5 linked regions of the Homo sapiens genome follow. The protein of the gene in region 4 purifies or fractionates together with the protein of the main gene of each other region. This does not show direct contact. Each region holds a gene or a part of one and is shown on either strand. Other genes may lie near its edges. The genes, in order: PPM1B, RAD23B, HSD17B4, TRIM59 and ANXA5.

Region 1 (6,471 bases), on a different chromosome or scaffold from region 4:
ACAACAGAGTGAGACACCATCTCAAAAAAAAACAAAAGTAATTTAAAAAGATCCTTCTTCAAGAAAGAATGTCCTAGTTAAATTTTTCAACATTCCCAGAAATATTAAATTGGCAGAGACCTAAAAATCTATTGGAATGCTGATTAACCTCTATTATCCACTGCAACATTTACTAAGTACAAGCAGTCCTTGATTTCCAGCAATTTTATTTCTGCTGATTCATTTAAATCACCTAGCCAATTACACCTACTTACTGTGGACAGACGACACACTAATGAATTTATATTACTTGGTTTGTTTCCTGATGATGGGCATAGAGTATCCCCAACTCCCAAAGTCAGTCTATCCCTGTAGCCCTTTTTGAGAACATCTTTGGCTCTAGATCAGATCCATTCAGCCAACTCTTCCTAAGTGAGGAAAGAAAGATCAAGATTAAGCAAAACAAAGGGAGAAATATATGAAGGAAAAGAAATACATACAAAGGATTGTTTCCCTTAAGTATTAAGCAATTGCCTTGTTCCTACCCCTATTATTGCCATTCAAGTACTGTCCTTCCAAGCATTCATTTCAATCCAAATACACATTTTGGGGAATATTTTAAGAGTTGACTTGAGGTTAAAGTCTTTTTTTTTTTTTTTTTTTGGAACGAAGTTTCGCTCTTGTTGCCCAGGCTGTGGTGCAATGGTAGGATCTCGGCTCACTGCAACCTCTGCCTCCCGGGTTCAAGCGATTCTCCTGCCTCAGCCTCCTGAGTAGCTGGGATTACAGGCACCCACCACCACACCTGGCTAATTTTTGTATATTTAGTAGAGACGGAGTTTCACCATGTTGACCAGGCTGGTCTTGAACTTCTGACCTCAGGTGATCCACCCGCCTCGGCCTCCCAAAGTGCTGGGATTACAGGCATGAGCCACCATGCCCGGCCAGGTTAAAGTCTTTAATTAGCACCATCATTTTATAGACACACTAACATCTAAATCTAATATCTAATATCTAAAAACTCTTAAACACAATTAACAAAATAAACACCTGCATTCCAACGGCAAAGTAATTCCATATTTATGCCTGTAAGATTTTGTCATTAGGAAAACTAATAGGAAGATGGAAAATTAAAGTCAAAATAAAACACCATTTCTCTCTCCTTAGATTAAAAAAAAGAGAGAGAGAGAGACTCTCAATATCAAACACAGACAAGAACACAGAGCTTTGCTGTTTGGTATAGTAGCCACTAACCACTCGGGGCTAGTAGGAATGTTAAATGAGGCTAATGCTAATAGAGATTTGCTGTAAGTGTAAAATACACAATGGATTTTAAATATTTAATTTATTAGTACTTTTTCACACTGCAGATAAAGACATACCCAAGACTGTGCAATTTACAAAAGAAAGAGAGGTTTAATGGACTTTCAGTTCTATGTGGCCAGGGAGGCCTCATGATCACTGCTGAAGGCAAGGAGAAGCAGGTCACATCTTACATAGATGGCAGCAGGCAAAGAGAGAGCTTGTGTAGGGAAGCTCTCCATTATAAAACCATCAGATCTCATGAGACTTACTCATTATCATGAGAACAGCACAGGAAAGACCTGTCCCCATGATTCAATTACCTCCCATGGGGTCCCTCTCAGAACACCTGGGAATTCAAGATGAGACTTGGGTGGGGACACAGCCCAATCACACCATTTAATATTTTTTAAAAGAATGCAAAATATCTAATTAACTTCATTGTTTATATATTGAATCATTTTGGAAATACTGGATTAAATAAAATACATTACTAAAATTAACTTTGCCTATGTCTTTTTTATTAATGTGGCTACTAGAAAAATTTAAATTACCTTACATTTATATAGGACAGCACTAAATTAAAACAACAGAAACTTTTGGCTGGGCATGGTGGCTCATGCCTGTAATCCCAGCACTTTGGGAGGCCATGGCGGGAGGATCACCTGAGGTCAGGAGTTCAGACCACCCTGGCCAACATGGTGAAACCCCATCTCTACTAAAAATACAAAAAAATTAGCTGGGTGTGGTGGCAGGTGCCTGTAATCCCAGCTACTTCAGGAGGCTGAAACAGGAGTATCGCTTGAACCCAGGAAGTGGAGGTTGCAATGAGCCAAGATTGCATCATTGCACTCCAGCCTGGGTGACAAGAGCGAAACTCTGTCTAAAAAAAAAAATATATATATATATATATATATACATATATAAAATACACCACTGGTAGGAGTATAAATTAGTATAGCAACATTGGAGAGAATTTTGGAAATATCTAGTTAGGGCTATAAGATAAGGATGGCCTACAGTTCAGCCATTTTACTCCCTAGAGAAATTCTCGCATATATATATGGCATGTAAATGGTTTTAGACCATTGATTAAAATTACAAAAATAATCCAAATGTCCTTCCAAAAAAGACTAGACAAAATGTGTTCTAGCTGCCTGTGGTGGCTCACGCCTGTAATCACAACACTTTAGGAGGCCAAAGGAGGTGGATCACTTGAGCTCAGGGATTAGAGGCCAGCCTGGGCAGCATGGTGAAACCTCATCTCTACAAAAAAAACACAAAAATTAGCCAGATGTGTTGGTGCACGCCTGTAGTTCCAGGTATTTGGGAGGCTGAGGTGGGAGGATCACTGGAGCCTGGGAGGGCAAGGCTGCAGTGAGCCAAGATTGAGCCACTGCACTCTTGCCTGAGCAACAGAGCCGGACTGTCTTATTAAAAAAAAAAAAAAAAAAAGAACTGTTCTAATCATACAATGGAATACTATGCAATATATATGCAATACTATGGAAAAAAGGGACTAGAACAAAAAAAGAACTGCAAAAATATTAAGTGACAAGAACAAATTGTAAAAAAAAAAAAAATTCTGTATATGGTCATGTACATACACCTCTTAAAACAGTACTATATGCTATTTAGAAATACATACATGTAGGCCGGGCGCGGTGGCTCATGTCTGTAATCCCAGCACTTTGGGAGGCCGAGGCGGGCAGATCTTGAGGTCAGGAGTTCGAGACCAGCCTGGCCAACATGGTGAGACCCCTGTCTCTACTAAAAATACAAAAATTAGCTGAGCGTGGTGGCACGTGCCTGTAATCTCAGCTACTCACGAGGCTGAGACAGGAGAATTACTTAAAACCTGAAGGCGGAGGCTGCAGTGAGCCGAGATCATGCCACTACACTCCAGCCTGGGCAACAAGAGCAAAACTCCGTCTCAAAAAAAAAAAAAAAAAGGTTATTTCACTTTCACATTGCAATTCCAAACACTCCAGAACAGATGAATAGAAACAAACTCAATTTCCTTAAGTTTAGGACTAGCAACCACCAAAGACTTAATAAAATGTTAGATTATATAAACAAAACCAGTTACAAGAGATAATTTTTTTAAATTCAAGTAAGGTTGTTTTTGGTTATTTTTAAATCTAAGATAGATGGCCAAATGTTGAACAACTTAATGAATCTGGTCTGAATTACAGTACTAAATTTAATATATTCCAAAATTTCAAGTTCTCTTGCATATCAGCATTTTGATAAAGTAACAGAATTACAAAAATACATTAAAAATGAAACTAGGCCGGGCACGGTGGCTCATGCCTGTAATCCCAGCACTTTGGAAGGCTGAGGCGGGCAGATCACCTGAGGTCAGGAGTTTGAGACCAGCTTGGCCAACATGGTGAAACCCCGTCTCTACGAAAAATACAAAATTAGCTGGGCGTGGTGCCGCAGGCCTGTAATCCCAGCTACTTGGGAGGCTGAGGCAGGAGAATCGCTTGAACTGGGAGGTGGCGGCTGCAATGAGCCGAGATTGCACCACTGCACCCCAGCCAGTTGGTTGATTTGCTTTAAAATTAAAAAAATCAATCTTGATTCACTTTAGCAATGAAGATCAAATGAAACTGACTCATAAATGAAAGCACAAGACCACCAAGCATTAAAATAAGAACAAAAAGATGAAAGATCTTTTATGCTTAAGTTTGCAATGTTTGTATAAACTGAAGAAGAGGCCTCTTTACCAAACTGGTTCAGTAGGAAAGCAATAGAAAGAACAGAAAGCAAAAATTAAGCACCTGCTTCACACATCTAAGTGCAATACGCCCATCTCACATGCAGAAAAAACAAAGGCACGACGTTAAGTAATACAACAAAGCTATGGAAGGAGAAGCAGTGATAAATATATAGACCAAGTTGTGCACAATAAACCAAGAGACAAATTGGCTCCATTAGCCATCTTTGCTAAGAGCACAAAAGTAGCCATTACAAATCAGTACCAGGCACTATTGGTCAACCACTAATCCTTCAGCTATACTCACGTAAGAACAGAAAGCTTTTTAAACATAAATGACAACATATATTTTATAGGTATATCCCAATTATTTAAATCAGACTTAAAAAATCCTGTTCACCCTTCTCCTATTGTTCCACCTTTACTCCCATCCTCCTTTCCAGGAACTCATCTATCCAAGGATGTACAGTAAATGGAAACACCTGAAGGCCCCAAATTTCCCTCATGTCTGTCTAATGCAGGGATCTCTTTTTCTCTCTTTGGGTCATCTTTTAATCTTAAACCAGGCAGGGCATGGTGACTCACGCCTGTAATCCCAGCACTTGGGGAGGCCGAGGCAGGTGGATCATGAGGTCAGGAGTTCCAGACCAGCATGACCAACATAGTGAAACCCCATCTCTACTAAAAGTACAAAAATTAGCCAGGTGTGGTGGTGCATGCCTGTGATCCCAGCTACTCGGGAGACTGAGGCAGGAGAATTGTCTGAACCTGGGAGGCGGAGGTTGCAGTGAGCCGAGATCATACCACTGCACTCCAGCCTGGGTGACAGAGTGAGACTCCGTCTCAAAAAAAAAAAAAAAAAATCTCAAACCAATGTCTTTCTCTAAGGCACAACAATATTTCCTCTTTCCTCTTTTCAGTCTAGTTTTTATCCAATTACAGAAAACCTCTTCCTTTCCTTTTGTTAAAAATAGTAAAGCTCTAATCACAGCTTTTAAGTTTAGTGTACAAAACACACACACCCCAAATCTTCCACTCAAGTTTTTAAGCCAGCCACATAAGGAGTTCAGCTGTAATGTAAACTGTGAGTTGCTGGTTAACAGAATGCAAGATCGTCAACGACAAGGATTTGGGATTTTGTCTGTTTTGTTCAGATACTGGCATGAAATGGGGGCCTTTGCACACAGAAGGCACTCAGTGAACATAAGAATTGGCTGGAGGGTTACAGACTAAATACTATTAGACTGTTCTGAATTCTTTACTTCTCAGTGGGTTGGTAGCTCAGAGTAAATAAAAGCAGAAAGCCTCCCAAAGCTCAACAAAATCTCCTATATAATCTTAACATTTGGAGTGCTTTGAATTAATTATGTTCCCCCACCCCCACTTTTGTTTTTTTTGAGACGGAGTCTCACTTTTGCCCAGGCTGGAATGCAGTGGCGCGATTTCAGCTGGGTTGAACCTCCACCTCCTGGGTTCAAGCGATTCTCCTGTCTCAGCCTCCTGAGTAGCTAGGATTACAGGCACATGCCGCCACACCCAGCTAATTTTCTGTATTTTAGTAGAGATGGGGTTTCACCGTGCTGCCAGGCTGGTCTCGAACTCCTGAGCTCAGACAATCCGCCCACCTCGGCCTCCCAAAGTGCTAGGATTATAGGCGTGAGCCACCAGGCCCAGTCATGTCCTCTTTTTAAGGGACTAAGAAAGGCCACCTGTGTTCAACAGAAAATGCCATTTCCCCACCTCAGAGATAAATGCTTTAGTCAGAACAAGGAAAAGGAAAAACACTGCCCAAATAGGTTAAACACCCATGCTGACACTTCTAGATTCTCCTACTCATAAGAACATCCAGTAACCAGCCCTTTTCAATGCGAGGAGTGCTCTTGATACCTACAATCAAGAAAATAAAATGCGATTAGATTTAAAAATGAGTTGACATTACTCTCAGGCTTAAAAGCGCTTCGCAAGCCTTCAAACTCTTACAAATTACTCTACATATTATTGATCAGAACTGCTTCTTCTCTGGCAAACAACACTTATTCATTTGTTTTATTTTCTTGTATATTATACGTTTGAATCTACCTGATAACATAACTGCATTTTAAAAGTTTTCTATAAAAGACAAGGTTTTTTCCTATTTCTAGCACACAAATGTACTTTTCATTCACAACTGATTCTGAAGTGAAGGCCATTCTACGTAGACAATAATCACAGCAATCCTAGAGACAAGTCTTATCCTCCCTATATCACTACCAGTAATTGGTACCATCTCTAAGAGAAAGACAAGTTCCTTAATAGTCAATACATGGCTTCCAAAGTTTGTCTGTCTCCTCTAAGTATGAGATCGGATTTAACTGGATCTTCTTTTGTTCACAAGGATGCAAAACAATTTTCCAAGAAGTGTTATGTTTCTAAACTTTAAGATTTTTAATTTTCAAGAAATGAATCAATTTAAAGCTAAAAAATAGAAT
Region 2 (5,176 bases), on a different chromosome or scaffold from region 4:
GTTGGATGTATTGAAAATATTTTATAATCAATTCTCTAGAATCCTAGCCATCCAGTACAGGAAAAAATTATATTGGAACACTTCCGTATTTTTAAACAATGAAAAAAAATTTGACTAGAGGATGGCATAAGAAATTTACAAATACAAACTTAGGCTTCCTCACATTTCCCACAGAGCAACTAAACGAGAAAAAGATTTCAAGAAATGACAGTATACCTCGAATGCAAAATTCCAAAGTCAAATAGCTACTTACATTAAGAGATTTACCAAAACAGTTTGTAAATTAAACATTAACAGCAAAAGGCACAAAAAGCCTATTTCTTTTATGGTGTCTCGGCTGATTCTTTAAGAAGCAGATAAACAAGGTACTGTATGGAACGATCAAAACTTGGCCTGAGCTGTCTTCTGATAATTAATCCTAGTATATCCAGATTTGTTGTCCAAGGACACAAGCTCCATGCCACCTTCTGCTGTCACTTTCCAAGAAGAGGCTGTTTTTTTTTTTTGTTTCCAGTTTTCACTATGATCTGAGTAGACAGAGAATGTCATAAAATAAATGAGAGTATTCCATTATCCGATCAGAAATGCCACCTCTTTTCCCAACTCATTGCTCTGACTTGAAAGATGAACGTATATATGAATTCTCATTTTATTCTCCTGAGAAATTATGCATGATCCATTATAAAACATACAGGTAATACAAAGTCCAAAAGCCTGTCATGTTTATGGCAGTGGTGTGATCTCAGCTCACGGCAACCTTCACTTCCCGGGTTCAAGCAATTCTCATGCCTCAGCCTCCCAAGTAGCTGGGACCACAGGCGTGCGCCACCATGCCTGGCTATTTTTTGTATTTTTAGTATAGACGGGGTTTCGCCATGACGGTCAGGCTGGTCTCAATCTCCTGGCCTCAAGTGATCTGCCCACCTCGGCCTCCCAAAGTGCTGGGATTATAGGCATGAGCCACCATACCCAGCCAGTTTCATTTATTTTCATAATAGGTTATGAGTACGTGATGTAAATGCTTAAAAGTCATCATCACCATACTGTGCTAAAGATATTGAGAAATTATGCAGAGAAATCTGTGCAAATTCATCTTCTTAGTATCAGATGGTTAAAAAAAAGGAAACAAAAAACAAAAGCAATCCAAATTATTTCTTTAAATACTCTTATTTATACTCAGGAAAACAGATTTGAAAAACTGAACAAGTAGACATCTGCCCCGTTTATGATTAAATAACAATGCCAATGAAGGAGATTCCACAGAAAAAACTGAGATGAAAAAATCCAAATAAAAGCCAACACTGCTATTAAGATTTTTCTTTTAATATGCCATGAGATATCTTGATTGTATATTTTCCAAAGTACTTTCCAGCCACATCTCCCAACCCATCCAAAAGACTTTGCCAGTCTTTCCAATGCAATAAAAGATGCTGGATTATAGTTTTGTCTACCATTTCTTTTTGAAAGCAATATTATACTAATGACTTTAATGGTAATACACTCTTATCTAATAAAGAAACACATTTACAAATATCAGAAACCCAGTTTTGAAACATTTGCATTAATTTTGAACTGAATCAGCATTTTGTGGGTTTTTTAAAAGGCAGCAGTTTGACTCACGACTTGCTGATAAACACGTTTCTGCTGAGGGAAGGGGAAAAGACAGGGAGAGTGAATGCTGCATTTCTCCATTGGCCCCAAAAGTGCTAATTTCACAAAGGGATACATCAAAAGCAAACATGCAATGGTTGTTTTAAAACTTTTACTGCAATATAACAATGAAGTAAACAGTAATTAGACACCTACCAATTTTTTCCCCAAAACAAAAAAAAAATGTAAACAGGAAAATAACTCTGCCTATACTTGTACAGCTTCTCAAATCATGTTAGAAGGGTCTCACATTCAATGATCAAGAAATTTTAAAATAGCAGTAATTATTTTCATTTTAAGAAAAGGTTCCCTTTCTCCCCTCCCACCCCAAGTATTTAACATGAAAGAATGGGCTTCCTTACATATTAATTTTATACTTATTTTTGAAGCAGCAACAATTAACCATCAATTTGGCATTTCTGTTTACAGTCGCTACAAAAATTTTTTAAATTTCACAAAGCCATTATCCAGTGTTGCCATGAAACAGAGACTGTAAATTCTAGGTAGCTAAGATTCTTTCTGAAACCAATGTTAAGTCAAAGAAATATAAAGCAGGGCATTACACTAAGTTTCTGGATCTAGTACACTAAAAAGAGTGAAACCTAGGAAAAGTTACCTACTGTTTTACAGAAGAAATAAAGACCTGCAAAAGCTGATTTTTGGTTGTATATATTTTACACACTGTGTGGAGTTGCGGCATCTGCTAATTGAAGCAGACATGCACTGTATTTATCCCTGCCCTGTATCCTAGATCCCTCCCTCCCCACCCCCAACAATCTACTACCTTATACCAAGTATTGTGGATATGAGCCCAAGTCATCCCAGACAATCCAGTGAACAAGTTAGTGTAATGCACTGGTGTGAAGTGTGAGATATAAAAAAGTCCCTTTCAATCTTCATCAAAGTTCTGCTGTAGAAGAAAATTGGCAGCCAAATTCTCATTCTTCTCACAAGCAAAATACGCTTGTATCACAAGTCCTTCAGGAAATCCTAATGCCTTTAACTGGAAGAAAAAGGAAAAAAATATAAATCCAACACACCAATTATGGCACATTTAATTTTATTTACATATTATAGATTCCAGCATAGCACTAAAGATAAATCATTACTCAAAAACATACTGCAACCCAAAAAAGCTCTTGAGAATTTTACATGAATTCATCTCTATCAATATGGATTTACTGCCCAACCCAAGGGATTAGATGGAATCTAGACCCTTTCCTTTACTAATCACCTAAAAAAGTCTTTGTTTCTAGTTAAAGCTTAATAGATACTATGCAAATACTCTTTGGCCTAATTAAAAATTAGCTGCTAACTGCTATGGTTTAAAAATAAATGACTCTACAGAAATATGTAAATCAAATGGCTTTTAGTATATTAAGAGTGAAGATAAGGATGAGAGTACCTGCAGTATAGTTTAACCACCTCACCTATTTCTAAATTAAAAGCAAATTATGTTTTATTTATTAATGTCAACTCATGTCTTTCATTTGGATCAAACATCACTCTCAATCTCCTTGCTTTATTCAACACTCCATACTAGAAAAACAGGTGACCAATTATTAGTAATACATGGTACATTTTGAAGATAATGTTCTATTTTTATCTGCTTAACAGTTACAGCATTTTAAATGGTAATACCAGCTACTTAATTTCATTTTCCTAGTCTATTATATTAAAAATCACTTGTGACAATACTCACTCCTTTTAAAAGCCTTTAAAAACTCAGCCAAATGTCACCCTCCTCAATTGTCTCAATCACCTTGAGTTAGATCACAGGTCCCAAACCCCAAGACCGTGAACTGGCACCAGCCATTGGCCTGTTAGGAACTGGGCTGCCCAGGAGCAGGTGAGCAGTGGGTGAGCAAGGAACTGGGCCGCACGGGAGGAGGTGAGCAGTGGGCGAACAAGTGAAGCTTCATCTGTATTTACAGCCACTCCCCATCACTCGAATTACCACCTGAGCTCCGTCTCCTGTTGTATCAGTGGCGGCATTAGATTCTCATATGAGCATGAACCCTACTGTGAACTGTGCATGAGAGGGATCTAGGGTCTGTGCTCCGTATGATAGCCTAACAAATGCCTGATGATGTGAGATGAAACAGTTTCATCCCAAAACCACCGCCCCACCCCACTTCCTAACCTAACTAACGCCTGATGATCGGAGGTGGAACAGTTTCATCCCAAAATCACTGCGCCCACCCCACCTATGTTGGTAGAAAAAAAGGTCTTCTACGTAACTGGTCCCTGGTGCCAAAAAGGTTAAAGACTGCTGTGTCAGATTATATTTGGAAATAACCCTTAAAATTTGGGCAAAAATCCCAATTCATCACGAATAACTATTCATCTATGAAAGCAGAAGAAACTAAAAAATCAGTTTGTTATCTGGGTTTTATCCAGATTAAAGCTAGGATAGGTGAAGTAAAGGGTACAATCCAACTGCCTGCTTCTACAAAACACACAATTTAGATTCAAAGACACAAGTAGGTTGAAAGTAAAATGATAGAAAAAGGTATATACTATGCAAATGGTAACCAAAAAAGAGCTAGAATGGCTATATCAGAGGAAACAGATTTAAGATAAAAATTGTTACTATAGACAAAAGGCATTTTATGATAAAAAGGGTTCAGGAAGACACAACAATTATATATAACAGAGCCACAAAATACATAAAATAAAAACTGAGAATTAAAGGTAGAAATTGGCAATTAACAATAATAGAGACAACTACAGCTCCACCTTCAATAATAGATAAAACAGCTAAGGAAGAAGACTTGACTACAAACTAGATCTATCAGATATTTATAGACCACTTAATAAGAACTACACTATATTCTTCTTCAGTATACATAGAACATTCTTCAGAAATACCATGTTAGGCCACAAAACGAACCTCAATAAGTTGAAAAGTATTGAAAGTATATTCTCTGATTATAATGGAATGAATTTAGAAATCGAAAGGAGAAAATGTGGGAAATTCATAAACTTGTGGAAATTAACACAATCCTAAATAACGAATGAATTAAATTAGAAACCAAATGGGAAATTAAAAAACATTTTGAGATGAAAGAAAGCAAAAATACAACATACTAAAACTTATGGGATGCTACTATAGCATAAACGCAGAAGGAATATTATAGCTATAAACATCTATGCTAACAAAGATAGATAATAATTTAATCTTAAACTAAAACTAAACAAAGAACTAAACTAAACCTAACCTAAAAAAGGAAGAACAAACTAGAAGCAAGCAAGAGGGAAATAAACATTAGAGAGACTTAAAACAAAACAAAACAAAAGACTAGAAAAACAATAGGGAGAATCAACAAAACCCAAAGTTATTTTTGTCATTAACAACAACCACCACAAAATGAACAAAATTAAAACCTTTAGCTAAACTGAAGGGAAAAAACAAAAATATCTTAGGACTCAAATGACTGAAATCAGGAATAAATGCAGGAACATTATTACTTTATCAAAAGAGGAAATAAAATGATTATAAGGAAATATGTACAATTGCACGCCA
Region 3 (4,768 bases), on a different chromosome or scaffold from region 4:
AATTATCTACAAAGAGTAGATACTAAGGACACTGTGTAACTTAATAGCCACTTAACCTCAATGTATCAAACAAAGAATGCACCAAGGTATATAGGAAAACAACAGGACAGGAAAACCAAAACTTGAAGCATACACTCAAATGATCCCACTTTCACTGCAGAGGGCCAGTTTACCAGTCTTCCTCAGAACCCAAAAGGATTTTAAAAAAAAAAAAAAAGGAAGAAGAAGAAGGGGAGGTGGTTGATGAGAAGACAAATGAAGGTCAGCTTTACTGTGTCATACGGCTTGAAAAAGTCAAGGTTAAGAAGACTAGGATTCAAGTTCCAAGATGCATGAACACCATTTACGATTTCCAATTGTTAGGGGGAATTTTGAAACATTTGTTTTAATTTTTTGCATTTACATTGTTCAGAGTATATAGTAACTAACCATGGGAGTGTGAATGAAACAGCAAACTGCCCAGCACATATTTCTTGTCTTCCTCCCAACTTCATGAAACACTCTAATAAAATAAGTGGCCATCAACTCAGAGCAGCAATGGGCTAACTGATCCACCAGTAAATAAGTTCTCCAATCAGTCAAAGTTACAGATACCAGCTCATAGCCCCATGATTCAAAAATTATTACCAGGCTCATAACCTGAATCTTACTCCAAGAAATAAAATATACCCTGTCTCAAAGAACTTCTCACCACTGTTCCCTCCTCCTTCTTGACACACTTCATTCATTTGGCTTCTCAAATACCCTATTCTCATGATACTCCTCATACCTCACCAACCATTCCTGTGCAGTCTCTTTTTGCTAGTTCCTCTGTATCTCTTTACCCTCTCAACATTTCAGGGCCTCTAAACTCAGGCCTCTTCTCTACTTACTCTCACACATTAGGTGACTTCATCTAATCTCCAGTATTTAAACATCACGTAAATGCTAAGGACCCAGTTAGACCCCTCCCTGAACTCTAGACTCATATATTCAACTGTCCATCTTATATTTCCACTTAAATGTGTAACAGACACCTCAAACATATTTAAAACCAACTCCTGATCAACCCCACCTTAAAATAAATGTGTATGTATAAATTATACATAATGCCATATGTAATTACTATACATATTAAATACACTATACATAATTATACATTACATATAGATATGTGTAATGTATAACTATATACAATGTATAACTATATACAATGTATATATATGCACCCATCTCTCTCTCTATATATATATACATATCCCAATTATCCAGAACAAACATCTTCATCCTTGACTCCTCTTTTCTAACCCTCATATGCAGCACTTTTACTTGGATTACTATAATAGACTCTTAAGTGGTTTCTCTGCTTTCATGCTTGACTCCCTTATAACCTAGTCTCCAAAAGCAACAAGCTTGTACCAGTCTGTGAACATAGCCAGATCATGTCACTACTCAGCTCAGATCAACAAATGGCTTCACATGTTCATCAAAGTATATGCTGAAATCTTTACAATTACTCCATGACCTTCTCCTACCATTGCCCCCTTGCTCACTCTACAGCTATGCTGGCCCTATTACTGTTCCAAAAACAAGTCAAGTATGTGCTATTTGCTTTAAATACTCCTCCCTGGCTTGCTTCTTCACCAATGTCATGAGGTGAGGATTATCATATCCATTTTATAGATAAGGAAACTGAAGCCTAGAGATGTTATTTACCCTTGGTCAAGAATCAAGTAAATGGCAGAGAGAGAATAACATTATGCCAGGGTTATGGGACTACACATACTTGTTATTTTCTTCTTTTTGCTGGCATTTTGAACTAACTCTCCCCTCTTTTATTCTTAAAAAGAAAAATCAAAAGATATGCTAAACTAACCACTATAAATAATTATATAAATATATATACACACACTACACACACATATATATAAGATATGACATTAATGAATAATATTTACAGAAATAGAAAAGCAAAATAAAGGTTTTTTATTAGGCATACCTTTGCAAAGTTGATTGAAAGTCCAGGAATTTCTGCTAATCCTCCACCCATCATAGATTTCTGACCTATGATAACTCCGAAGGTGGGCAAACAGGAGAAATCAGAACTTCCTTCATAAATAAATTTCAAATCTTTTGGATCCTTGATTGACGCTCCCACTCCAAGGGCATACATAATAGCTTCCAGTTCCGTATAAGCATAAGAAAATGGAGGGAGTTTCTGGCCAATAGCTCCAGCCTAAGAACAGTTTTAAAAAGTAATTTATTTCATTGATAACTTTTCAAAACTATTAACTTCTTACATACCTAGTTTTGTTTTTGAATAGATGTGACTAGAATGTTAGTGAATTTGATGGAGCATAATTATTGCAATTATATTTTATTTTTTAATAGAAACTAATTAGGTAATGTGTAGAAAAGGACTTCATTTACAGTTAAGAAGTTTTTTATTGCTTGCTTCTTGCTAACAGACAGTATGCCTCATACTCAACTTTCCTGTCTCTAATTCAGCAACTATTAGCTACCCAAAAATCCAAAAAATAATGAATTTGTTATTAAGGATAGTAAATTGCTTGTAAGATCTAATGTATAAAGTTCACTGTAAACAGATGAGTAAAACACTGCTTAATGGATGTAAATTTGATTGCCTCATAATGGTTTCTGTTTGTTTGTTTTGAGATGGAGTCTCGCTCTCTCGCCCAAGCTGGAGTGCAGTGGCATGATCTTGGCTCACTGCAACCTCTGCCTCTCAGGTTCATGCAATTCTCCTGCCTCAGCTTCCCGAGTAGCTGGGACTACAGGCCCGTGCCACCATGCCTGGCTAATTTTTTTTTATATTTTCAGTAGAGACAGGGTTTCACCATGTTGGCCAGGATGGTCTGGAACTCCTGACCTCGTGATCCACCCACCTCGGCCTCCCAAAGTGCTGGGATTACAGGCGTGAGCCACTGCGCCCAGTCCCTCATAATGTTAAGTAAAATAAAATTAACTTGAATTTCCTTCCCAGGAATATCCTTTGTCTAACTGGATGTTGTCTTTTTCTACTTAGTGATAATATGCGTAGCTAATAAGTGAAGTACATATAAAAGAATAATGTCCAATTTTTCAATCATTTTTATTCTAAAGTAGAAGTTGGCAAACAAGGACTAAGAGCTAAAATGGTTTATACAGGTTGATTAAAAATAAGAAAAAGAGAAAGAATATGTACTAGAATAGAAGCACTATGTAGCCCACAGAGCCTAAAATATTTACTATATGGCCCTTCATCAAAAAGGTTTGCCAACCCTTATTTTGAGGAAAAATCACATTTCTATACTGACCACATTCTCAGGCTTAAAATTAGAATTTTAATTTTCTTTATCACAATGCCTACCATAGGTTACAAAACAACAGAATCTAATATGGCATATGATTTACTTCTTCCTATTTATCCAGTACAGTTTTTTTAAGAAAGAATACAAACAGGAACAGTAAATAGGCAAATTTCACATGAGCTATCACAATTGTTCTCGAATTTCTGACTCAATGGGAAGCATTTTACTTGCAGCCATGTTGAAATAGTTCTAAAATACAATATCGATGCTTCCCTTAAAAGAAACGGACCCAAAAGAGCACTAAACTAGATATCCTTTTCTAAAGAGTCAGAAAATGTTACTAAAGTAGGATTACTGATGGTCAAGAAAAAAAAATGATACTTGTCATACAGTTAGATACAGAAATCTAATGGTACTGAAAAAGAAAAAGCAAAAGTTTAATATCTGAGCTTATGTTCAAATTCTATCAATATTTAGTACATATTTTATACAGTTTTATCATCACTCATTTAGCAATAAATAGCTTAGAAAATAATTTTTTTGTATGTGAAAAAAGTTTCAAAATTATTTACATTTCAAACAAAATTTTGCTGATTATAGGCACTTCACTTTCAACATAGAGGTTTAAAGCCTTATGGGCATTAGGTAAAGGGGTAAAAAACACAACAAAGAACCTGGGAGCATATAACCTCCAGAAGTCATGGTGTCATAGTCTCCCCTCCCAAATACAAATTCCCACACAACTCAAATCTACTTAAAGTCAATTTAAAGCTATCCTTAAAGAGATAAAGAACTATGAACGGGTAGAATGAGAACTGTATATGGAAGACAGACAGTCCAGGCAGGCATACATATCTGGACTAGATATCAGTTTAGCCACAGTTCATTTTATCAACAGTTGAGGTACTACTCCCTTTTTTCCTCTTCCATTCAGTACCTCCCTGAGTCAATTTCCAAACAGCATTGCAGGGGGTAAAAATGAGGTTGGCTAAAGCACCACTCAGGCAGCTAACCTGATTCATCACACCCCCCAATGGAGCCTACCAAAAATTATATGCAAGTAAGGAGTATCCCTCTAAAAAGTTCATGATAAGCTTTCAGCAGCTCTGTTTCCAACCAGGAGAAGAAGCTGAGTGGGTTACCTCCATTCTCCAAGCCCCACTCGGCTACTAGGCAAAACCTTGGAAACTGATACCCAATCGCTCTGATCTCCTTTCCCATTAGGGAAAAGAAATGCAGGGTACAGTCCAGAGAAATCTAAGAGAGGGAAAAGGAGAAACTAAAAAGACAAATAAAGTACTCTGGACAGTGTTAGAATTCATCCTGAGCCATCTCTTCATGTGGCTCAACTGTCCTGAATACTCTGTATGTTGAAATCAGGCTGTATGTTATAAAGTCAATCATAAACGATTCCTGAATAAATCCTCTATTTTAAATTATCTCTGCCACTGCTTCTCTCCATTATTAGAGACTGAAAG
Region 4 (3,500 bases):
CAGGTATGTCTTTATCAGCAGCATGAAAACAGACTAATACACTACATAATAAAGACTAAAATTCAAAGTGTTCTGTTAAAGTCTACTTAGTGATTACAACTATTTTGTGCAACATTTTAACATTTAAGATGATAAAATCAAAACCAAGCACATATAATGAGTAGACAAGACTATTTCTATTACAACAAGTTAGGCTTAGCAAAAGTATATTCTTTAACACAAAAGGAGGAAACATGTCCCAGTTGGCTCAATAATGGTTTCTAAAGCAAGCTATCAAATTTCTCCACAGTAACTGTTACTACCATAAATTTTTTAGCTTCTCAAATTAGAATACAAGAACGCTTAAACCCCAGGATCAGCATAGTATAATTCTCTAAAGCAATAATTTTAACTTGCAGATTTAGAAGACAGAAAAATTTTGAATTAATTCTTATAATAAAAATCAGTTTGAAAGATAAGAGTTGACTATAGTAACTGTGAATTAATTTTTAAGTGAAAAACTAGAGCACTAAATGGTAAAGAACAAAAAGAAGACCATTAGTCATCTTTCCTTCATGAAAGTCTCTCGATCCGTATTTCTCTGAGACAGAAAAAGAAACGTAGCGATAGTTCAGAGACCATCTCTGACACAAGTAACTTGACCTCTTGGCAAGCTACTACTGATATTTCCAGTAACAGAAGCCTGACCATTTTGCACCCTACCACCTCCTACTGCTTTCCTTTATACCTACCCTCAATGCATCAGCCACAATTCTAAAGACTAGCTTACCCCTTGATAGAGAAAAATCAAGTTATACCACTGTTGAAAGTACCTTAGGCAAAACTTAAAAACCCAAGTGCCATGGCCAGGCGCAGTGGTTCACGCATATAATCCCAGCACTTTGGGAGGCCGAGGCGGGCGGATCACCTGAGGTTGGGAGTTTGAGACCAGCCTGACCAACATGGAGAAACTCCATCTCTACTAAAAATACAAAATTAGCCCAGTGTGGTGTCAAATGCGTGTAATCCCAGCTACTTGGGAGGCTGAGACAGGAGAATTGCTTGAACTCAGTAGGTGGCGGTTGCAGTGAGCCAAGATTACACCACCGCACTCATCTGGACAACAAGAGCGAAACTCCGTCTCAAAAAAAATAAACACCCAAGTGCCATTCACGTAAAATATAAAGGTTACCAAATCACATGCTATAAAACTAACTTTTAAGATTAAAAATCTGTGAAAACAGCAACTAAAAGTAACTAACTGCATTTTTAATAAAATGCAAACTTGGCTCCTTATCTTTACGATCTGTCAAACTCTTAACTCTTCCTTCAAGGCTCAACTTGAGCCTGCCTTTTCCCCAGATTAGGTCCCCTGTTATTCTCATTAAACACTGCATTTTTACTTCATAGCACTTTAACAAGATTTTATTTAAGAATTTTGTAACTTTTCTGTATACATTAGAATGTAGGCCTCCTATAAGGGCAGGAATTGTGTCTAAACAATGGTTATATTCCTGCAATTTAGGCACAAATTTTAACACTGCAGGCATTCACTTGTTACTGCTTCAATGAACAAATGCCTTTTCAGAGACCTGTGTTAATACAGATTTTTGTTTTGGGGTTTTTTGTTTTTTGTTTTTTTAATAGCAAAATCTCTGCTTAGGAAAAGGTGTAAAACGAAAATCTATCAGAAAATACTCCATTCAGGCCAGGTGCGGGGGCTCACGCCTGTAATCTCCGCACTTTGGGAGGCCGAGGTGGGTGAATCATGAGGTCAGGTGATTGAGACCATCCTGCCTAACAGGGTGAAACCCCGTCTCTACTAAAAATACAAAAAAATTAGCCAGGTGTGGTGGTGGGCGCCTGTAGTCCCAGCCACTTGGGAGGCTAAGGCAGGAGAATGGCGTCAACCCGGGAGGCAGAGCTTGCAGTGAGCCAAGTTCACACCACTGCACACCAGCCTGGGCAACAGAGTGAGACTCCATCTCAAAAAAAAAAAAAAAAAAAGAAAAAAGAAAAAAAGCACTCCATTCAAACTGACAATATTCAGATCCCGAATGAGCCAAAGTGTGTCACACAGAGACTAAGCTTGAACTGTAGAGCATTCCAGCAAATTAAAGTAATTGAGCAACAGTAAAGAAGATGACATTCACTGCAGATAAATTCAAGTGAGTGCATGCTGGCAAGACTTTACAACTTTACCCTACACCTACAGAAAGCTATGAAGTCATACAGAAACCACCCAAGAAAAACAAATGTGTTTTTCAGAGTATTTCAGTGATGTCAGAATTCACATTGAAGGAATAAACAGAATAACACTTTGTAGGAAATAAAATTTGAGCAGTCGACGTACATTTAATCTAGATTTAATATTACTGGAGCTATTCAATTGTTTAAGTAGCAAAACTAGTCCTAAAACAGAATCTAACTTTTCTATCCAAACCCCTATTCTATGCTTGCAGAAAACTAGGGAACAACTCTGAGAATGCACTTAGGGGCCCAAAAGCTCAACTTTCTTTAGAATGAGAATATTCATGACATTGTAAAGCATATCCTAAGCTTATATAAAATGGAAGCAGGCCAAAGCAGGTGGATCACTTGAGGCAAGGAGTTTGAGACCAGCCTGGCCAACATGGTGAAACCCTGTATCTACTAAAAATACAAAAATTAGCCAGGCATGGTGGCGCACACCTGTAATCCCTATAATCCCAGCTACTCGGGAAGCTGAGGCATGAAATGGCGCAACTGCACTCCAGCCAGGGCAACAGAGCAAGACTCTGTCTCAAAAAAAGGAAAAAAAAAAAATAGGAAGCAAAAATCGTGGTTGGTCTCAAAGTTACTGCTATCATATGTAAAATTTTTAATAATACTTTTTAGACAAAAATTTGTGGATAACTTGAAGTTCACAGAAGTCAAAATCTATTCTCAGACTACCCTTTTCTCACTGATTTATTGATTAAAAACTAATTTTAGGCAACAAATTCAAGAGAAACTAGAACTGAAAAATAACTTTGTAAGGTCAGGAACTTTCTGACTCTGGTTGCTGCCTGAGAAGTAAACTATATAGGTGGGCCAGGTGCAGTGGTTCACACCTGTAATTCCAGCACTTTGGGAGGCCAAGGTGGGAAGATCACTTGAAGCCAGGAGTTCAAGACCAACCTGGGCAACACCAAGAGACCCCCATTCTCTACAAAAAATTAAACATTAGTCAGGCACAGTGATACACGCCTATAATCCCAGCTACGCGGGGAGCTGAGGCAGGAGGATCACTTGAGCCCAAGAAGTTGAGGCTGCAGTGAGCCACGACTGTGCCACTGCACTCCAGCCTAGGCAACAGAGCAAGACCCTGCCTTTTTTAGAAAAAAAAAAGATACAGGTGGCTACCATGCTTACAGGCTAGTTCTTTCAGAAACCAATATGAAATTTTATGCAGCAGAAATTTTCCACAACCAGTCTAGGCTTCTGAAAGGAAGAAAAAGAACAAAAAATTAACCTATGTATATTTTCTAGGATGAACATCT
Region 5 (6,471 bases), on a different chromosome or scaffold from region 4:
TGATGGCTTCTTCATGTAAAACAATGATATTTAACAGTTTTGTTTTAATCTAAGTATCCTTTCTCCTAAATGAGGATGCCCAATATTCATGGATCCATCTGGATGAGGGACCCTTACACCCCTTCCCTAAGCTTTACGGTTCAGCCTGAGTACAGTTTCATAAGCCCTGGTTCAGTGCAAAGGATGAGTCTTTGGAGTCAAAACAGATGTGGTCTATCTGCAAGATCTCAGATGAACTACTTAATCTCCTCTTCAGCCTCAGTGTATATAGTCATTAACGGAGATTATATAACTAAGATAATGCACTGAACAGTGTCAGGTAATCAGTAGCAAATGCCCAGTAAAAGTAAAAAGTGCCTGATTACTTCTCCTTCTCCCTCTTTCCTCTAAGAGTTCAACTCTCCCTCCAGAGAAAGAATAAAACAAGGATTTACTGGGGAAGAAGGTAAATCTGTTTTAATGCATTAAAAGTATTAAATCAATTTAACACATTAAAAATGTTAAAAAGTGGATTATCTACAAAACGTTCAGTTCCCAAGTGAATGACTCACTATGGCTTATCAAACCTCTCAAATAATAGAAATCTTCTTAGTGCCAGGTATCAGTAGAGACAAAAATGCAAAAGCTTATAAAAGAGCCCTTTAGCTGTCTCAGCTTACTCTCAATTAAGAAATCTCAAATTCTCACTAGTGATAACAGTCCAGCTGCCCTTGCTACGAGGTACAAGTTGGTGTGTTCCTTTTTATAATGCCAAAAGATTATTTGTTTTCAACAGGTTTATTAATTAATAATAATACATTTGAAAGAATCAAAAATAATAGCCAGTGTAACATGTTCTGTATTGCTCCTAGTCACTGGAAGGCTAAGAAAAGCTTGGATTCCATTCAAGGGATACTTTAAAGTAACTCCATAAAGCAGTTTTCACATGTACAGTCTCACATGTACTCTCAGGGTTCTGAATGGTTATATCCACTGCATGACACGTAAGTGTCACCTATACAGCCTCAGTAATCAAAGGACCAAGAATGCAGGCATTACCTGAGAGCATGTTCAAAATCCAGACTCCCAGCCCCTGCCCAGACCCATAGAATCAGAATCTGCAATTAAAGGTCCCAGGTGCGCCACATGCCCATGAAAGTTTGAGCAGCAGTGCTATCCAGTAAGTGCTCCAAGGACAGAAATCAATGAAAACAAGGTTAAAATGTACTGTTTTCCCCTCAGGAGCCTCGTGCTGCAGCAATGCTCTCATTACATCACCAACTATGCTGGGAAATCTGCCCTCTGCCTGTGAATGCAGGCCTCACTGCAGACATCTGAGAGGACTAGAGTTGGTTTCTTACACTGTGACCCTGAAAAGCTCCCAGAACTCCTATCCTACTCTTGACAGTAGGAATGAGAGAATCAGCACTATCTCCTAGCAAAGCCACAACCAATGCTTGGAAAGCAGTAAGATCACCTCAGTACTGAACAAAGCCCCTAACAGGAGTACAACTCTGTAGGGTTGCTCTAGCCCTCTTCCCGAAAGAAGGTGGAATTAAGCTAGATCTATGCTTGAGTTGATATTTAATAAGCCCTTTAATGATAGAGAAAATCAGGGAAGGCACTAATACTCAAGAACACTGAATATCTTACAGTGAAATATTCTTATAGTGAAATATTAATATTCAATAACACTGACTATCTTCTAGTGAAAGAGAAAGAGCTTTGGAGTCAGACAGGCCTCGTTAGGAATTCCAACTCCACTGCTATTCAGTGGAAGCCATGGGTTTGTTTCTTTATCCATAAAAGGGAAATTGCCCCTTTCTGGTAGAGTTATGTGCTCATTCATTCATCAGTTATTTACTGAGCACCTACTCTATGCCAGAAGCTGAGGATACAATTGAACTGACAGCTCAGGGGGCCCAGGAAGGCAGTGAAGTAAATAGATGGCTTCCAGAGAACGTGGCAAGAACTGTGACAGGAAGCCTGGGGGCGGGGGGGGGTATGGTTTTCCCTGTGAGGGGCACCTAACTCTAAAGTATCTAAGCTGAAGACTGACTCTTGAAGAGGACTCAGGTGAAGCGGGGTGGGAGGGGCAAGAGGGCAGAGAGAGCATGTGAGAGAGGCTGGAGGCATAAGTAAACAACACACAGATAACAAAGGGGCTTGTAACCCATTCAGGAACCCGGACTTTATCCTGAGGGCAATGGAACCACCAGAGTCTGAAGGGGCTGGACACAATTGGCTTGCATTTTCTAAGACAGAGTGAAGCAAGAGTCAAATACTGCACAGAGAGCCCTCGGTAAACATTCAGTTCTTTTTTTCTCTCCAGCTAGACAGAGATGACAGCATTCTGAAACCATTATAAAATCAACCTACCCAAAAGAATAACCGCTCTCCTCTTTCCTGTTAGCAAAGTGAGATCGCATATCCATGGGTTGTTCCACTGGAGGAATGAATATGGCTCTTCCTTTTTCAATGATACATGACAAACAACCAAGAATTGTATATTCTCTTAATTGAAACATGTGACCAGAAAGAGGTCTATGATTGGTGGTTCTAGGAACCCAAGTAATTCCTTTATTACCAATTTCCAGTTTTCAGCTCTCATGTTTCAAATTTCCTTTCCTATATTTTAATAACTGTTTTATTAACCAGACTGAGACTTTATAGGGGTTTATAAGTCACTTAAGAGGAAATTTTCATTTGGAGTCACTAAAAAGCTGCTGACAGAAGACCAATCCTACTTAAAATTCTGTCGAAGGAAATGCAGAGAAATTTCCTAATACCAAAATAACTTGTCATCTCTTATGTAATTAAACACCACTTACTGTTAAATACTTTATTCTTTCTTCTTTATCTTCTCCTGCTAAGAGACCCACTGCATAATTGGCAGTGGAAGTAATAACACTGTTTTTTGGTAAAATTCTCTATTTTGTGAATGTTCAATAATCACAAAAAAAAACATGTCTAGTTGGAACTCACTATATAATTTATTTTATTTCGTTTCAGCTTTAAGGTAAAATATTTTGCTGACCAGGTCAGAATAAGAAAAAGCTACTTATGTAGGTCTTATGCTATGTAAATAACCCATTAACAAGATTATCACTAGAAGCTATTACAACATACATTGTGATTTTTCATTACCATGAATTATTTCTTCATTTCTACAGCATAATAAAGTCATCATATCCTGGTGTCACTCACCTGAGCATCTTGTTCAACTTGAGCTTCATCAATTCCAGCATCAGGGTCTCTGTTAGCCTATGAGAGGTAATATGTCACATTACTGAACTATAGAGCATTCTCATTCAAAAGGAAAAATGGTTCCACCTGATGGTTATTCAATAACACTCTTTCTCTAGGAATAATATGCTTTTATTAAGATCAATCCTGCACTATTTCACGTTATCATCACCCAGCACTGTCCAAAACCAATAATGACCCTACTGATTTTAAATTCTATGAAAGAACAAGATACCGCTATCATTCTATGAAAGGAACAAGATACTACTATCTAAAACATGTATGAGTTAGCTGTTAAGAATTTAGACCAGATATTCTGAAACACAAACAAGCACAGGCAACATACAGTCAGAATCATCGCAGTAAGAATCAGCAAGTACCACAAATTATTAAAAGAATTTTAAGTGACCTTACTTAACTAGATTCAGCCCAGTCCAACTTCAGGCTTTTTAATCAAACTGTAATTAATCTCCACGCAATACCTGAAGGAGAACCACCAACATCCGCTGGTAGTACCCTGAAGTGTCCCCCACCACGTCATCTTCCAGGCTTGAGCCATATTCTGCAACAAAATAATTTCATACTTATTTACATCTTCTTTCAACTAGAAAAGTAATCTTGCCCCATTAATCAAATGAAAGCGATGTAAAAGAAGAAATAATTATATTTGGTTAACATAAATTCCCTCTATTCCATCTCTGAATGCTCTAAGCAAATGCTTTCAGTGAGTGGTTGGACAAAAATGAATTAAAGTCTCCCAAAGGCACTCAATTCAAACTTAAATCAAGACTCAGCCATTTAGAAATTCTCTCGACCAATGTAGTCATTAATCTATAGATACATGATGGTACTGGAAAGTCTCCAAAACACAATCAATCATAAGCTTAAACTCTGTTTTGCTTTCTTTCAAATCTTTTATATGGTTAGCTTCCAAATGTCTTCTATCTCTAATATTCTGAGATTTATTTCTTTGGGCATGGCCATCACTCCTAATAAGGTATTTTTCCTCTGCAGAAATAAAGTTAACTCTTGAGAGACAGCAATGATATTTTAAAGTAGGCCCCCCTCCCACCTCTATTTCCAGCTGCTCAATGTAAGCCCATATAAAAGGGGAGAACTGGGATCTACAAGAGTCTACAAGTCTTTCTCACTACTCTCAAACAGATGCTATTAAAGGAAAGGAGGCCTTACTCTAAGGTATTTAAATATTTAATTATTATGCAAAAGCAAACGAACTTTAAAAGCCTGAAACTTCTATTTTAAAAGGCCCAGAAGAGTTACATGTTTATTTCAACAAGTTACCCAAATACAAAACCTTGTAGGAATCTTTAATTCTTTCTTCTACACCAACACCTGTAAATATTAACCATTAAATCCTATCACGTTTCTCCTGTCCCTGATTTATCCTCCTCACACCTCTCACTCACCTAGGTTGGGCCACAATTCCTAAATACCTAGCTTACCTCCCACACACATAACTATCCAATTAGCCTCTCAATTCAAATCTCCTTCCTCCCTCAATTGTTCCTTCAGCACTCCACTGCTCATTCAGGAATTTACAGTGCCTGTGAATTAAGTCCAAATTCCTAATCCAGTCATGCAAAACCATCTATATCTGAGCCTAACCTCGCTTGTTCCATTTACCTCCCACAATGGACATGCACACATCCTCCACAGCAGCCAGGCCCTCTCCGTCCCTCAATACACTCTCCACAGTCCAGTCTCCATGCCATTAAAGACAGGCAGTACCTCACCCAAAAATATCTTTTCTACCTACTCAAAATGCACCTAGTCTTTTTTTCCCAGCTTTATTGAGTTATGATGGACAAATAAAAATTGTATATATTTAAGGTATACACCATGATGTTTTCATATATGTGTACGTTGTGAAATGATTACCACAATCAAGTTAATCAGCATATCCATCACTTCATATAGTCTATATTTTTGTGTGTGGTGAGGACATTTAAAATATACTGTATTCACAAATTTCAAGCATATAATAGTTATACTTTCACTATAGTCACCACGCTGTTCATGAGATCCCCAGAACTTATTCATCCTGCCTAACTAAAATCGTGTATGCTTTGACCAATATTTCACCAGTCCCTTCTCCCATTCACCCCACCCCTACACCCTAGCAAACACTGTTTTACTATCTGTTTCTATGAGTTCAATTTTTTTAGATTCAACATAAGAAGTGAGATCATGCATAGCTTATGCCTTGTGCCTAGCTTATTTCACTTTGCATTATGTCCTCCACGTTTATCCATGATGTTGAAATGACAGGATTTCCCCTCTTTAAGACTGAACAGTACTCCTGTGTGTGTGTGTCTGTGTTTGTGTGTGTGTGTGTACGTATTCTTTATCTATTCATCTGTCAATGGACACTTTGTAAACCCACCTAGTCTTGAAACTCTGCTGCATGTGTGATTTGTACCATGAAGCCTCCCTAACATCCAAAGCTATGATGACCTCTCTCTTCTGAATGCATTATTGCATTTAACATCATTGGTATTTTACTTTAGTTTGAATTTCATTATCCTTTAAATATTGCAGTCATTCTGTCATGTCACCCACTGAGGAGACTGCACACAAACTGCTTGAGGACAGGAGCTGTGTTATGCACACCTTTTGTCACTCATGACAGCCTGTTAACACACTGCCAGACACATAGCCAGTGCTCAATTACACGGCTGAGTAGGACAGACCACACAGTTATTACCCCCTTTGAGCACACCATTTGTAATCCAGTAGCACAAAGGCTCTCATCAACGTCAACATCCCCAGAAAGAGATCTTTGAATAGTACATCAAATAAAGTTCAAAGTTGAGATACATGTATCACTTCTGCCTTAGCGGTTGGGAACTTACTGCCTATAAAAAGAGAAGCAGGAAAGAGAGATTCAGCCCTTTAGAAAGGTAATTATACAGTTGCTCTAAACAATTTTTTGCTGTTTTGACTTGCTGGGTTAACAAAGCCATTTCTAAGATTAACAAACTAATGGCAAGATACAGCCCCTAGCAAAAGACACTAGGCTTGGAGTCTGTTGACTGAGCTGAGAAACTGGATAGTCTGACCCTCCTCAGTCAGGCAGGAGAAAGAGTTGGCTACAAGAAATCTGGTAAGAAAAGGACTCTCTACCTCTACTTTTTACTTCATTTTCTTGATTCTATTCATGAGACATATTTTAGGCCGAAATGCAGATTTCTGTTCATATAAAAGACACACTAAAAAGAAAAATCA

Evidence for each region.
Region 1: the proteins of TRIM59 (region 4) and PPM1B purify together in Homo sapiens (affinity purification with western blotting, with the first as the bait; one study listed by BioGRID). This does not show direct contact.
Region 2: the proteins of TRIM59 (region 4) and RAD23B purify together in Homo sapiens (affinity purification with mass spectrometry, with the first as the bait; one large-scale study listed by BioGRID). This does not show direct contact.
Region 3: the proteins of TRIM59 (region 4) and HSD17B4 purify together in Homo sapiens (affinity purification with mass spectrometry; one large-scale study listed by BioGRID and IntAct). This does not show direct contact.
Region 5: the proteins of TRIM59 (region 4) and ANXA5 purify together in Homo sapiens (affinity purification with mass spectrometry, with the first as the bait; one large-scale study listed by BioGRID). This does not show direct contact.

What each region holds. Positions count from the first base shown.
Region 1 is NC_000002.12:44,174,181-44,180,651, reverse strand, and holds part of PPM1B (protein phosphatase 1B), read right to left. Parts: intron 1-6,471.
Region 2 is NC_000009.12:107,327,020-107,332,195, reverse strand, and holds the end of RAD23B (UV excision repair protein RAD23 homolog B), read right to left. Parts: intron 2,654-5,176; coding exon 2,540-2,653; 3' UTR 7-2,539; downstream 1-6. UniProt on the Homo sapiens protein: Multiubiquitin chain receptor involved in modulation of proteasomal degradation. Binds to polyubiquitin chains.
Region 3 is NC_000005.10:119,496,764-119,501,531, reverse strand, and holds part of HSD17B4 (peroxisomal multifunctional enzyme type 2), read right to left. Parts: intron 2,216-4,768; coding exon 1,979-2,215; intron 1-1,978. UniProt on the Homo sapiens protein: Bifunctional enzyme acting on the peroxisomal fatty acid beta-oxidation pathway.
Region 4 is NC_000003.12:160,439,787-160,443,286, forward strand, and holds part of TRIM59 (tripartite motif-containing protein 59), read right to left. Parts: intron 1-3,500. UniProt on the Homo sapiens protein: E3 ubiquitin ligase involved in different processes such as development and immune response. Serves as a negative regulator for innate immune signaling pathways by suppressing RLR-induced activation of IRF3/7 and NF-kappa-B via interaction with adapter ECSIT.
Region 5 is NC_000004.12:121,674,708-121,681,178, forward strand, and holds part of ANXA5 (annexin A5), read right to left. Parts: intron 6,102-6,471; coding exon of another isoform or gene 6,049-6,101; exon of another isoform or gene 3,788-6,048; coding exon 3,708-3,787; intron 3,244-3,707; coding exon 3,187-3,243; intron 1-3,186. UniProt on the Homo sapiens protein: This protein is an anticoagulant protein that acts as an indirect inhibitor of the thromboplastin-specific complex, which is involved in the blood coagulation cascade.